Linked DNA regions of Homo sapiens: all the other regions are reported to be linked to region 1. Evidence: microRNA targets listed by miRTarBase, many of them from high-throughput screens and not tested one by one. Region 1 holds a microRNA gene; each other region holds the end of a gene's coding sequence.
The links. Region 1 holds the annotated microRNA hsa-miR-3074-5p (GUUCCUGCUGAACUGAGCCAG, at 1,566-1,586, opposite strand). A microRNA usually pairs through its seed, bases 2 to 8, with sites in the 3' UTR of a target mRNA and lowers its output. Matches are read on the target gene's strand: a 7mer-m8 pairs with bases 2 to 8, a 7mer-A1 pairs with bases 2 to 7 and ends in A, and an 8mer does both.

Region 1 (4,561 bases):
ATAATAGTAATCAGTGTAAATGGTGTTTCTCTTTCGTTTTGTTATTTCGTGGCGTACGTGTTAAAGTGTGTGAAACTACAAGGCCAGCTAGTCCTTTCATCATTCCCTTTGGTGCAGGTTTTGGAGCAGCACCACAGGGCACACCCCTCGCCACTCTTTATGGGGAATTTTTGCCCAGGCAGGCAAAGGAGTCATCTTGGTCACAAGTCTCCCTTTTCCCCCTCCCCAGCATCTTCGATCCTGTCCCCACCCCTCCAGATGCATCCAGGGGTTGCAAGCCTGCCCCCCAACCAGTCCCCGTGAGGAACAGTGGCCGGGATTGTCCCAGGGCCCCTTCCAGCAGGGGGACCTCCTGACTTGAGAGTCCCCAAAGCCTTCCCAGGGCAGCTAGAATCTGCCTGGAGAGAAGGGATCTTGTCCCCAAGGGTTAGAGGCAGTAAACTAATAGCAAGGACAGCTGCCTTTAGCAATTGTGTGTGTCGCATGGCCGGTCCCTGCATTTTTCTTCAGTTCCAAAGCTGCACTGGCATTTTTATGGTCATCTCTGGAGTCCCTTTGATTCAAGAAATTATACCTCTAGGATGCCAACTAAACGAACAACAAACAGAAACTCCACCTGTTTGCTAGCATAACAGGCGTGAAGGCGGCAGTGTCGCCGGCGTCCTTCCGCGGAAGCCCAGTGTGTGCAGACAGCACGGGGTGGCGCTGCTCTCAGGTGCTCTGGCTGCTTGGGTTCCTGGCATGCTGATTTGTGACTTAAGATTAAAATCACATTGCCAGGGATTACCACGCAACCACGACCTTGGCTGCTCCTCCAGAAACCGTGGTCGCGCTCACTGCAGATTGGAGAACAGGTGCATCTCGTAGCTCTTCTTTGGAAACAAAAGAAGCCACCAGCTGAGGAAGATGCTCACCGGTCACCGTCCCTTTATTTATGCCCAGCGATGACCTCTCTAACAAGGTGCAGAGCTTAGCTGATTGGTGAACAGTGATTGGTTTCCGCTTTGTTCACAGTGGCTAAGTTCTGCACCTGAAGAGAAGGTGAGATGGGGACAGTTAAGTTGGAGCCGCTGGGGCAGAGGCCGTTGCTGACGGGCCGGCCGCTGCTGCACAGTCAGCTTGGGTGCGGAGCGCGATCCTGGAGGATGAGAGACCACTTGACCCCAAGGATGCACTGTCTCCTGCTGGGAATGCTAGCCATGTACTGAGTCCTTAAGTCTGTCCACAGAAACATGCACTAATCGGACATCTGTCTGAAAGGTCAAATGTATTGAAAGTTGCAAAAATTCTTCTTACAAAAAACTAAAACCAAATGCATCACCTAAGTCGTGTGAAATCATGTGGTAGCTCATGGCTGTGAGCGGGGCGGGGCGGGGCTTTCGGAGGAGCTCCTGTTGTTCTGGGCGCGGTGAACTCTCTCTTGTATTTGCAGTCCAGGCCTTCGCGTCTCCTGCGCCAGCAGACGGTGCCCACGGAGCTCCCAGCTGAGGCGCTGCTTCTCCGGGCTGTCGATTGGACCCGCCCTCCGGTGCCTACTGAGCTGATATCAGTTCTCATTTTACACACTGGCTCAGTTCAGCAGGAACAGGAGTCGAGCCCTTGAGCAAAAAGCCTTCGTGTCTGTAAGTGCCCGAGGCTCAGGAGAGCTGGGGCTCCCACTCGCGGCAGACAGGCCCGCGTCCACCCTGCGTCCACCCCGGCCCGGCGGCAGCACGGTGCCAGTCATCTGCATGTGCTCCTGCGGCGTGGGGGTTTGTAGACTTGGAAAACCCTGTTGGCAGAAAGTTAAGAGCTCCCAGGCCTGAAGGCAGGACACAGTGCCAGCAGGGGGCCGTTTGCCCCCATGTGTAAGGGAGGCAGGGCCCAGCTCTCCCACGGCGAGGTGAGCTGAGACTTTCTGAGAACAGTTAGAGTGGGTGCGTGTCTGAAATGGGTACTCCTAGCAGCTATTGTGTACGCAAAGCCTGAGTACAGCCTGCTGGTGTCATGGCCACGTGTGAGCAGGCCAGCGTCACACGGCTCGCTGTGACCCGTCCCGGAGACTGAAATGGGCCTGGGTCTTCTCCTTGTCCTGTGATTAAAGTCCTCTCTTGAAAGTGGAGAGCAAAGGCACACAGAGGTGCGCGCTCACAAGAATTCCTCCCGGTGACTGGGTAATCAATGTTACTGCTGTTTCCTTTGCAGGAAAGACCACAGCAAGATTCTTTCATTCGTCTCCTCCTAGCCTGGGGGACCAGGCTCGAACTGACCCTGGACATCAAAGGAGGGATTATGTGGCTGCTAAAGCCATCGGCCCACAGCCCTGTTCACATCTTGGTGCTTCTCTTTCCCAGAGGCTGGTCCCAGCCAGGCACACACAAAAGGCAGATTCTCGTAAACGCAGCCTCCCTCCCTGGAGGCTGCCTCCTGCCCTGGATCTGGAGTGGAGCTGCTCTGAGATTTTGAGTTCTTCTGCAGAGATGATTAAATATATCCAAGAGACATTGGAAAACCTGCTGAACATTTTACATTGGTCTGCTCAGCACATGGCTGGATGCGGATATTTCTATAATTCCAGAAAGTCACACAGCTCCTCTGTATGAGACCAGTGGGCGCCATTTAAAAGAACAGGATGAGAATCTAAGATATATTATTAATAAATGTAATGGATTTTTTTTTTGTATACGTGTTTGCTTCTAAATTTCATACTGTTTAAAAATAATAAAGGCCAGGTGCGGTGGCTCATGCCTATAATCCCAGCACTTTGGGAGGCCGAGGTGGGTGGATCACGAGGTCAGGAGATCGAGACCATCCTGGCTAACATGGTGAAACCCTGTCTCTACTAAAATACAAAAAATTAGGCGGGCGTGGTGGTGGGCACCTGTAATCCCAGCTACTCGGGAGACTGAGGCAGGAGAATCGCTTGAACCCAGGAGGTGGCAGTTGCAGTGAGCCGAGATTGCGCCACTGCACTCCAGCCTGGGCGACAGAGCAAGACTCCATCTCAAAAAAAAAAAAAAAAAAAAAAAAAAAGCACGTACAAGAAAAAGGTATTCTCCACATTCTGGTGTTCCCCCCCCACCTCACTAGTTTCTTTGTTGTTTTCAAGGTAGTGTTAGTTCTCTTAGAAGCCTGAAAACAAAAGTAATTTGGCTGCGCGTGGGGCACCCTCTTCCGATAAAATGGAGAGCCTGGGCATATTCAGGCATCGTGGGAGTCTGGTGGTATGATTTTTCTTTCTCCACAAGGTTTAGGGTATAGACAGAAGCTGGGCACTGAGCTTCCTTGGCACTGTCCATGGGGCAGAATGTTTGAAAATGCCTGGAGAAGGCTGTAGGAACGGGTGCAGCCATGGGCCCTGTGCCAAGTTGGGCTGAGCATGAGTGCACCTGAACACACCCACAGTCTCCTCTGCCTGGCTCCAGGGGGCAGCACAAATTCTGGCCTGTTTGGGGTGAAGTGGGGCTCTACCATGGATCTCATTAGAAGCTCTGGACTGGGAGGCCTTGGTCTCCAGAACTCTCTTTTCTTGTCCCAGTGACTGATTCCAGAACGTTCTTAGGATTTGCTCTCTGCTGTCACATGCCTTTGCGTGGGACTGTATAGCTGGCTGTGCCATCGTGGAGGATGGCTCAGAACTTGACTGTTATGTTTGAATAAATACACGACCGCGGCTTCCTGTGGAGATTTAGAATGAACGATGCTTTCTCTCTGTGTGCTGCTGCCTTTTTTTTTTCCTTCCTTTCTTTTTTTTGACAGTTTCACTCTTGTTGCGCAGGCTGGAATGCAATGGCACGATCTCTGTACACTGCAACCTCCGCCTCCCGGGTTCAAGCGATTCTCCTGCCCCAGCCTCCCGAGTAGCTGGGATTACAGGCTCCCGCCACCATGCCCAGCTAATTTTGTATTTTTAGTGGAGATGGGGTTTCACCACGTTGGTCAGGCTGGTCTCGAACTCCCGACCTCACGTGATCCACCTGCCTCGGCCTCCCAAAGTGCCGGGATTATAGGCGTGAACCACTGTACCCGGCCTCTCTCTCTCTCTCTCTCTGCGCTTTCTAAGTGTGTTTGGCTTTCACTGAGGCAGAGCCAGGAAGGACCGTGGGAGTACCGGCCGCACTGCCCTGCGAGGCTCCCACTCCCACTGTGTGCAGATGCTTGGCACCTGGAGCTCTCAAGAGCTGCGGGTGGCTCACCGGCCCAGTGGTTTGGGGTGACCTTGCTTTTCCAAAAAGTGAAAGCCATGCTTTATCTTCTTTAGAAACCACTAAAGCAAAGCTGAACTGCTGAATAGGTGGGGTTCTGCACAAAGACCACTAATCCCCTGGCTCCTGTGAGTCACCGGGTCTTGTGACTTGCTTTGACCACCGGGGATCTGGCCAGTGGGTGGCATAAATTTGGTGGACCTCATCAGAACCGGACATTGCTGTCACGGATTTGACTGAGGTCCTGCCAGGAGTCGGCCTTTGCTGCCTCCAGACCTGGGGGCACCCTGCCCGTGCTGGGGCTGCCCCTGGAGGTGAGGGAGGGAGGAAGCCGGAGAGCAGCTCCGCCACTCTCTCCAGGCAGGAGGCTCCCCGAG
Region 2 (4,000 bases), not on the chromosome of region 1:
TCTCAATTTCCAAAAGAGTATGGTCAGAGCCAGCAGCACACCACCTTCCCCATGGGTGGGGGGGGGCCAGCCTGTGGCGGGGGTGCGGGTCCCATCTTTTCGAAGGAATTGACCCACAGTGGGCGGGTCCACCTTTGACCTTGCCCCAGGGAGCGCAGACAGAAAAAAGATCCTTGCTTAGTTTGAGGGGCCGCTGGGGTGCTCGGTTTGTCTTCAGAGGCCTGTCTGTAACACCAATGCCAACCCGGTGGCACTGACTGGTCACCCTGAAGGCCACGGCCAGTGTCCTAGGAAGGGACTCAATTTCTAGCTGTGCCACCTGAGATTCTGGGGTTAGGCTGGTTGTGCTTCTGAAGTTCCACTGTGCTCAAAGTGCTTGGTGAAAGTTAGCGAAGGTGATTTTACAAAAATAGATGCATAAAATGTCTAGGAAACACAAAAAATCCTCATTACTCTTCTCTCCAAATATTTTTTAAGCCCCAACTGGACCCTAGGCAAAAGTGAGTGGCACTCCTCTGCCAGGACTCCAGGCAAGCCCCGGCATCTTCTTGCTGCCGTCCCAGACAACAGAAGTTACCAGATGAACAGACTTGGATGGGCCACGGGGGTGGAGAGCTGGAAAGCTTGGCTGTGCCTCTCGATGATGATTAAGATTTCAATATTTACAGCAAAACCACAAAGCAAATGATAGAATAAAGCAAAACAATGGAAAATCTGAGTTCACTCGTGAGAGAGGTACGTATGTGAGCTCTGAGGAAATTACAGAGGGAACGCATGCAGCGGGACAGCTCTCCCAATCGCAGCGTGCAAAGTAGACATCCATAGTGTCTTTTGAAAAATGAAAAACACATTACTTTGAACAGCCAAGAAAAAAATTGCAATTTATTAAGATTCAATAAAGCGTTGTACTTTCGAAAGCAACTTTCGATGCATGTTCTTCAACAGTCACATTCTATGAGGAAAACATTAAGAGCCACGAACTTGTTGTTTAATCTCAGAGTTACAGACATATTAAGTTCAAAATAAAAGGTAAAAAAAACAAAAAACAAACAAACAAAAAACCCCTCAAACCCAACAAAACCCAAAAACAAACAAACATATTCTTGACTTCCATCCCCAATTTTAAAACAACAGTTTTTCTACAACTCAATGCTCGCCGGCAGCACGGGAAGTGGTATGTCGGACGCACATACGCACACGCATGCTCACACGCACACATATTGGATATACATACGCAGGTGTATGTCCATCGAATATATAGAACGCATGTAATGGCAATGAGATGCAGTCACTCTGAGGAAGGTTGGTTTTTCTAAATATCCTACTAAACTTGAGAAAAAAAGTCTTGAACCCAGTTTGTGCATAGTTCATGATCCTCTATAAAACCAGCTTTTGTGGATCTGCAGTCTTGCAGGACTTTTTTTTTTTTTTTTGTATTTTTTTTGTTTTGATAAAACCATTAAAAAGCTAATTAAAAAAATGTAATGCACAAGTTTCCTGATCAAGCAGGCAGGGAGCACAATGTTCATATATATATTTTTTAAAACATACTTGAAGGTATGTTATTCCATTGTCTTTCTTCCTTGCAAAACAATCAAAACATTGATCATTTTTAAAACATAAAGCAATTTTTAATATATAAAGCACTCTTCAAACATCTATTTCTTTTGAGTCCATTATTTGGTAAATATGTAACTGCTACACATTAGAGATTAGGTATTTTTCTTCTTTGTGTTTTTTTTTCCTCTTTTTCTTTTTTTTCATTTTTTTGTTTTGTTTTGTTTTTTTTTTTTTTAAATAACATCTTCAGTGCTAGGAGTTGGGTTTAAAAATACATGAAATGGTGTGGAGCTGCCCTCGGGAGCCCTGGCTTTCCTGAGAGCGCGTCCGGCATGTGCAAGACAGTGGCCACAACGCCTGTCACCTTGACGAAGGGGCGAAAGCAATCGACAGAGTCCACGACGATGGCCGAGGGAACAACACTGTCCCGTCCCAGAGCTCTGAAGGAACGCATCTGCATTCTGAAAATAGGTTTCTTTACGACGGAAGTCTTTTTTTTTTTTTAATTCCTTTTTAAATTTTTAAAATTTTAAAGTCTGAAGGAGAAAAAAAGGTCTGTAAACAGGTGGGAGCCCAAACCCCAGGCTCCCCCAAAAGCAGTCACAACCCACGCCCAAGTGCTTGTTTCTGTTCCTTCCACGGAACCATCCATTCTTTACAAGTATCTATGGCCACAGTTCAACAACAGTTTTTTTTTTTTTTCTCTTTAACTTTATATTCCAAATGGAAAAATGGTGCAATACTCTGGTAATAATTTTCTTGCATTAGTCCACAATAAAAAGCTGCTAAAGGTAGGTATACATGTTATTTCTCCAGAGATATACACTGTACTTTTTAAACGCAGTCACAGAGTCCTTGAGTAAACATTTACACATGAATTGTCGCCAGCCCTGTCCTAGGAATTCTCTGTAATGTATAGGATTAGCTAAAGGAAGGGCGAGGACACTCAGTGCAAAGTTAGAAGCTAATAATAACAACCGTTTGACCAATGCGCCAAAAAAAAAGCGTATACTGAATACAAGGGAAAACCCACAGTTAAATCCTCACACGCTTTCAAACACACAAACACAGAAAACTGCACGCCGTGCAGGAGCACGCGCCACACATGCACACACACACACACTTCTGTTTCAACACGCACACATACACACACGTAGGCTATGAACTTAGAAATTTTTCCTAGAGCCTGTTTCTGTGTACTGATGTCAACCTGGAAGTGTAGAATTAGAAAGTGTTCACATTTCACTATTGGCCTGCTGGATTCAAGTATTTGCATGTTTGATATGTCTTTTTTTAACTTTTAAAAAATATTTTTTGGGATAAAAAAATGACATGAAAAAGTAATGAAACAAGGGTAATGTGCATAGGCGGATCCAGGGGAACAGAGAGCAGATCGCAGCCCGCGCCTTCCGCTCAGCTCCCGCCGCGGAGCCGCTCTGCGCCCGGCGGTCCACACCAGACTCTGCCCTGATTACCGGCCGCCTCTGGTCATGTGCATAATCGTCACAGGCTCATTTTAAATAGGCTTCACGTCTCCCTCCCTCCCCCACAGATAAAATAACCCTTTCCAGCCCACAATCTGAAAAGTGCCCTTCATGATAGAACTATTCTAAGCAGCTTTTATACTTAAAAAAAAAAAAAAAATCAAAATGACAACACACTATACAAACATAAGACGCACAAAATAAAAAGCTACGAGGAACATCCTGTCATTAGCATGTGACGCTGACCCACCGCAGCCCGCACTGTTTTGCGAACAGTTCGCAAGGACTGCGGCCAAGGTTCGTCTTCAGTCCTGGACAGAGGTACTCAAAAGGGCGGCCGCTGCTGGGTTCCAGCGGGTCTGTGGGGCCGCCCAGCCGGGAGGGGTCCCGGGAGGGGTCGGCTCTCCTGGTGCTGATGATGGCAGAGCCTACAGGGACTCCCCGCTGAGCAGGTCCCCAGGCAGCAGGGTGGTTAGCGGCGTGGGGCTGCCTATCACCCTGCTGTCGTCGGCGCTGGGCGGGCCCCACAGGCTGCTGGAGTACTGGGGCACCCCGCCCCACAGCAGCTCACTGCTCCCCTTGCCACCCAGGCACGGGGCGTTCCAGTGGCCAGCGTCGCTGCGTACCAGGCCATGGGAGCTGCCCGCTGCGCTGAGCCGCGGCTGGCTGGACGCGCTGCTGGACTGCCAGCTGGAAGTGGGTGGCAGCGCCTGGCCTTGGGCTAAGAAGCGATTCACTTCTTCTTCACCAGCGAACTCGGCCAGGATGGTAGTGTTTCCCAGGACGCACCTGCAACAGCAAGATGGGGCACGTGAACAGGGCCACCCCAAGTCCTGCTGAGTTCGTGGCACTGGCTTTCTCTGTATTGGGAACGGCCCCACATGGAAGCCATCCTGTGGCTTCTGTTTTGCCACTGCTATTTCCAAACCCAGACTGTGAATGTTTTGCTCAGTTCA
Region 3 (4,000 bases), not on the chromosome of region 1:
CCTAATCATATTCAAGTATCTTCTAAAACATGTATAATTTATAAATTATGCATTATTTATAAAGGTTTCTGGCCAAATGAAAATGACCCTACTATGATTTTATTTCTGTTGTTAATACTAAAAGAATCCCACTTGGATAATTTATCTTTTGTAGGGTAGTGAAACACTTGAAGTTTACTTAGAGTTTATTCAAAGCATAAAACTGAAATTCAAGATCAGAAAATCAAATTCTAAGGTAGATAGACTTTAGGCAACGCAGGCAACGAGGCAATTTCAGTTTATCAATTTGCTTTTACTTTTTTTTCGCTTAAAGCAATCAAATTTACAATTAGAAACTGATTTTCTTTCTCCTAATTCCGAATTTTTTTACAGCAAAAAGCCAAAGAAACCCCAAAGAAGGCAAAACAACCGACTGAAACCTTTAACCTTAGCCTATGATGGAGATGCCGACATGTAACATATAACTTTTCCTGGCAACAACCAGTTTCGGCTTTCTGACTTCATAGATGTCCAGAGGCCACAACAAATGTATCCAAACTGTGTGGATTAAAATATATTTTAATTTTTAAAAATGGCATCATAAAGACAAGAGTGAAAATCATACTGCCACTGGAGATATTTAAGACAGTACCACTTATATACAGACCATCAACCGTGAGAATTATAGGAGATTTAGCTGAATACATGCTGCATTCTGAAAGTTTTATGTCATCTTTTCTGAAATCTACCGACTGAAAAACCACTTTCATCTCTAAAAAATAATGGTGGAATTGGCCAGTTAGGATGCCTGATACAAGACCGTCTGCAGTGTTAATCCATAAAACTTCCTAGCATGAAGAGTTTCTACCAAGATCTCCACAATACTATGGTCAAATTAACATGTGTACTCAGTTGAATGACACACATTATGTCAGATTATGTACTTGCTAATAAGCAATTTTAACAATGCATAACAAATAAACTCTAAGCTAAGCAGAAAATCCACTGAATAAATTCAGCATCTTGGTGGTCGATGGTAGATTTTATTGACCTGCATTTCAGAGACAAAGCCTCTTTTTTAAGACTTCTTGTCTCTCTCCAAAGTAAGAATGCTGGACAAGTACTAGTGTCTTAGAAGAACGAGTCCTCAAGTTCAGTATTTTATAGTGGTAATTGTCTGGAAAACTAATTTACTTGTGTTAATACAATACGTTTCTACTTTCCCTGATTTTCAAACTGGTTGCCTGCATCTTTTTTGCTATATGGAAGGCACATTTTTGCACTATATTAGTGCAGCACGATAGGCGCTTAACCAGTATTGCCATAGAAACTGCCTCTTTTCATGTGGGATGAAGACATCTGTGCCAAGAGTGGCATGAAGACATTTGCAAGTTCTTGTATCCTGAAGAGAGTAAAGTTCAGTTTGGATGGCAGCAAGATGAAATCAGCTATTACACCTGCTGTACACACACTTCCTCATCACTGCAGCCATTGTGAAATTGACAACATGGCGGTAATTTAAGTGTTGAAGTCCCTAACCCCTTAACCCTCTAAAAGGTGGATTCCTCTAGTTGGTTTGTAATTGTTCTTTGAAGGCTGTTTATGACTAGATTTTTATATTTGTTATCTTTGTTAAGAAAAAAAAAGAAAAAGGAACTGGATGTCTTTTTAATTTTGAGCAGATGGAGAAAATAAATAATGTATCAATGACCTTTGTAACTAAAGGAAATCAAAATTATATGTTGATTTTTCTTTCTCTCTGATTTCCCAGTTTCAGATTGAATGTCTGTCTTGCAGGCAGTTATTTCAAAATCCATAGTCTTTTGCCTTTCTCACTGGCAAAATTTGAAGCAATCTCTCTCTTCAATGTATGATTTCAAAACTAAAATTTTAAAAGAGAAGAATAAATATCTTATCCAAGACTTCATTGCATATCTAGAGCAAGAGTGGCAAACTTTTTCTGTAAAGGACTATATAGAAAATATTTTCCACAAGGTCTATGTTGCAACTTCTCAACTTTGCCATTCTGCTAATGCAATCTTAGTAAATAAAAGAATGAACATAACTGTTTTCCTATATAACTTCCCTTACAAAAACAGCCAGTAGGCCACCTTTGCAGGTCATATTTTGCTGACCCCTGGTCTGGATGTTTTTTAATGCTAGCTCTCCATGGTGTCATCTTTCGTTTTCATTCATTTTTCAAAGGTGAGAATTTACAGTCATTACATTTCCCACTGTATCAGAAGTAGCTGTATTTTCTACAGATGTAGCCCTGGGAATGGCACAGTGGAACAATATTTAACTAACTCAGCAGACTTCTTGCAAATGAAAAGAAAACTCAAAAGGTGCCATTAAAAAGCAATACCATTTTCAGGCAACATTATTGCAACAACCTTTGTGAGAGAGGACACTAGCTTTTCAGGATATTTGAAAAATAATATAACTAACATGCTATTTTATCTTAAACAGCTGTGTTCCTGTAAAAGTGTTTTGGATTAGAAGGTATTTTTACCTTCATACTGGAGTATGAACTCCCCCTGCTGTTCATTAGAGTATTTGCAAAGATTACAAAAGACATCAGGTTAGGATGTCATTGTCCCCAAAATGAAAATATTTGTATGTATTTCAATAAGAACTAAATGCAGTAAGCGCTAATTCCTCATTCAATATTCACTATATTAGGAAATGTAAATCATTTCAAAGAGAACAGGTAGTCAGGAAGATGAAAATTTTACTTTAAAGCAAGGATTTAAACAAAGAAAACCATAAAAACAAAGTCCATTTTATCTGTTTTATTAAAGAGGAAGAAAAAATAATATTGTTACTTTAAAACTGTGATTGTCAATATATATAATCAGGGGTCTTCCAGATAATCCTAAAGTTGATCTCTTTGAATAAAATAAACTCCATTTGTCCAAAATAGTTAAGAAAGACTCTATTGTGGTTACTTGAAAAATTCAGCTAACCCTCTTATGAAATGTGTGCAACACCTATTAATTTTGAAATGTGGGATAGAATACCTACTAAAGCTATATTTAAGGTATTGTAAAATGTCATTAATTCAGAAAAGATTAGTATCATCCTACCTATAAGAATTAAATTAGCAAATCAAAATTATAGAATGTTATGAAAAATACATTTTATTCATAAATTAATTAGATTTTACAGCATATATGCATGCATATATATATATACACACACACACACACACACCCATATATATGAGAGAGAGGAAATTAGGTTCAACATGACCTAATATTAGAGAACATATTGGAAGGTCACTGTTTGTTAGGATAAATAAATACTGGATAACCTCGTTAGAAAGGTGGAAAGAGGAGAACGTAGCAATCTGGCTATTTTGGACAAAGGGAAGGTTATTATATTCATGTTTATAACATGAAAATGGCCTTATTTTTGTTTCTGACATGAGACAATAATGAGTTAAATATTTTATTGGAATTTCATCAAAACCTTATTTTTACTGTTCCTTCTAAAAATTTGGGAGGGGAATATAGTAGTAACTTCTCTATTGACACTTTTACCTCACCGAGGGGGTAAAAGATGTAGAACTGCTGTTCCCTAGAATGAAGGTCTGTTGTTTGGTTTTTAAAAAAAGAAGAGCAGAAAAAGTTTGACACAGTATTATATGATTTTGCTGGACTATTTCACTAGAAACCACGTAGAATAGGACTAACTGATCTCTTTTGAAAGGGGCTGATTTGCTTATTCATCAATAACTAATCCAATATGTGGACAGTAATCTTAATTTCAAAGCCTTTTTTGAGGATACTACGGTGTAGCTTAAGTGAATTTAAAAAGAGTGCATAAAAGCTTGTTTTTAATTACTTATAACAAAGCACAAATTACTTCTAACAAGGCAAATATTTATTGACATATAAGACATTCTGCTAGGCATTGTAAAAAAAAAAAAAAAAGTAATGGCTTTTGTATACATAGGTACTTAAGACAGACATCCAAAAGAAGGAAAAAATGCTTAATGAGTGAAGATAGCACTGAAACA

Region 2: miRTarBase lists TNRC6C as a target of hsa-miR-3074-5p. Seed matches in the 3' UTR shown: 7mer-A1 at 1,872-1,878 and 7mer-A1 at 1,494-1,500.
Region 3: the mRNA of THSD7A is a reported target of hsa-miR-3074-5p. The part of its 3' UTR that is shown has no 7-base or 8-base seed match.

Annotation. Positions count from the first base shown.
Region 1 is chr9:95,084,498-95,089,058 of GRCh38, forward strand. It overlaps MIR3074 (microRNA 3074), which reads right to left and starts at 1,597; the gene lies at 1,517-1,597. AOPEP (aminopeptidase O (putative)) reads left to right here. Exons shown (of 17, transcript NM_001193329.3): 17 at 2,185-2,662. MIR23B (microRNA 23b) reads left to right here and starts at 711; the gene lies at 711-807. It overlaps MIR27B (microRNA 27b), which reads left to right and starts at 948; the gene lies at 948-1,044. It also overlaps MIR24-1.
Region 2 is chr17:78,104,318-78,108,317 of GRCh38, reverse strand. TNRC6C (trinucleotide repeat containing adaptor 6C) reads right to left here. Exons shown (of 23, transcript NM_001142640.2): 23 at 1-3,833. The coding sequence ends at 3,473. TMC6 (transmembrane channel like 6) reads left to right here. Exons shown (of 20, transcript NM_001127198.5): 20 at 1-921. Among named protein-coding and RNA genes, the nearest start is that of TMC6, 22 kb to the left of the region's middle.
Region 3 is chr7:11,372,251-11,376,250 of GRCh38, reverse strand. THSD7A (thrombospondin type 1 domain containing 7A) reads left to right here. Exons shown (of 28, transcript NM_015204.3): 28 at 373-4,000. The coding sequence ends at 457. Among named protein-coding and RNA genes, the nearest start is that of PHF14, 400 kb to the right of the region's middle.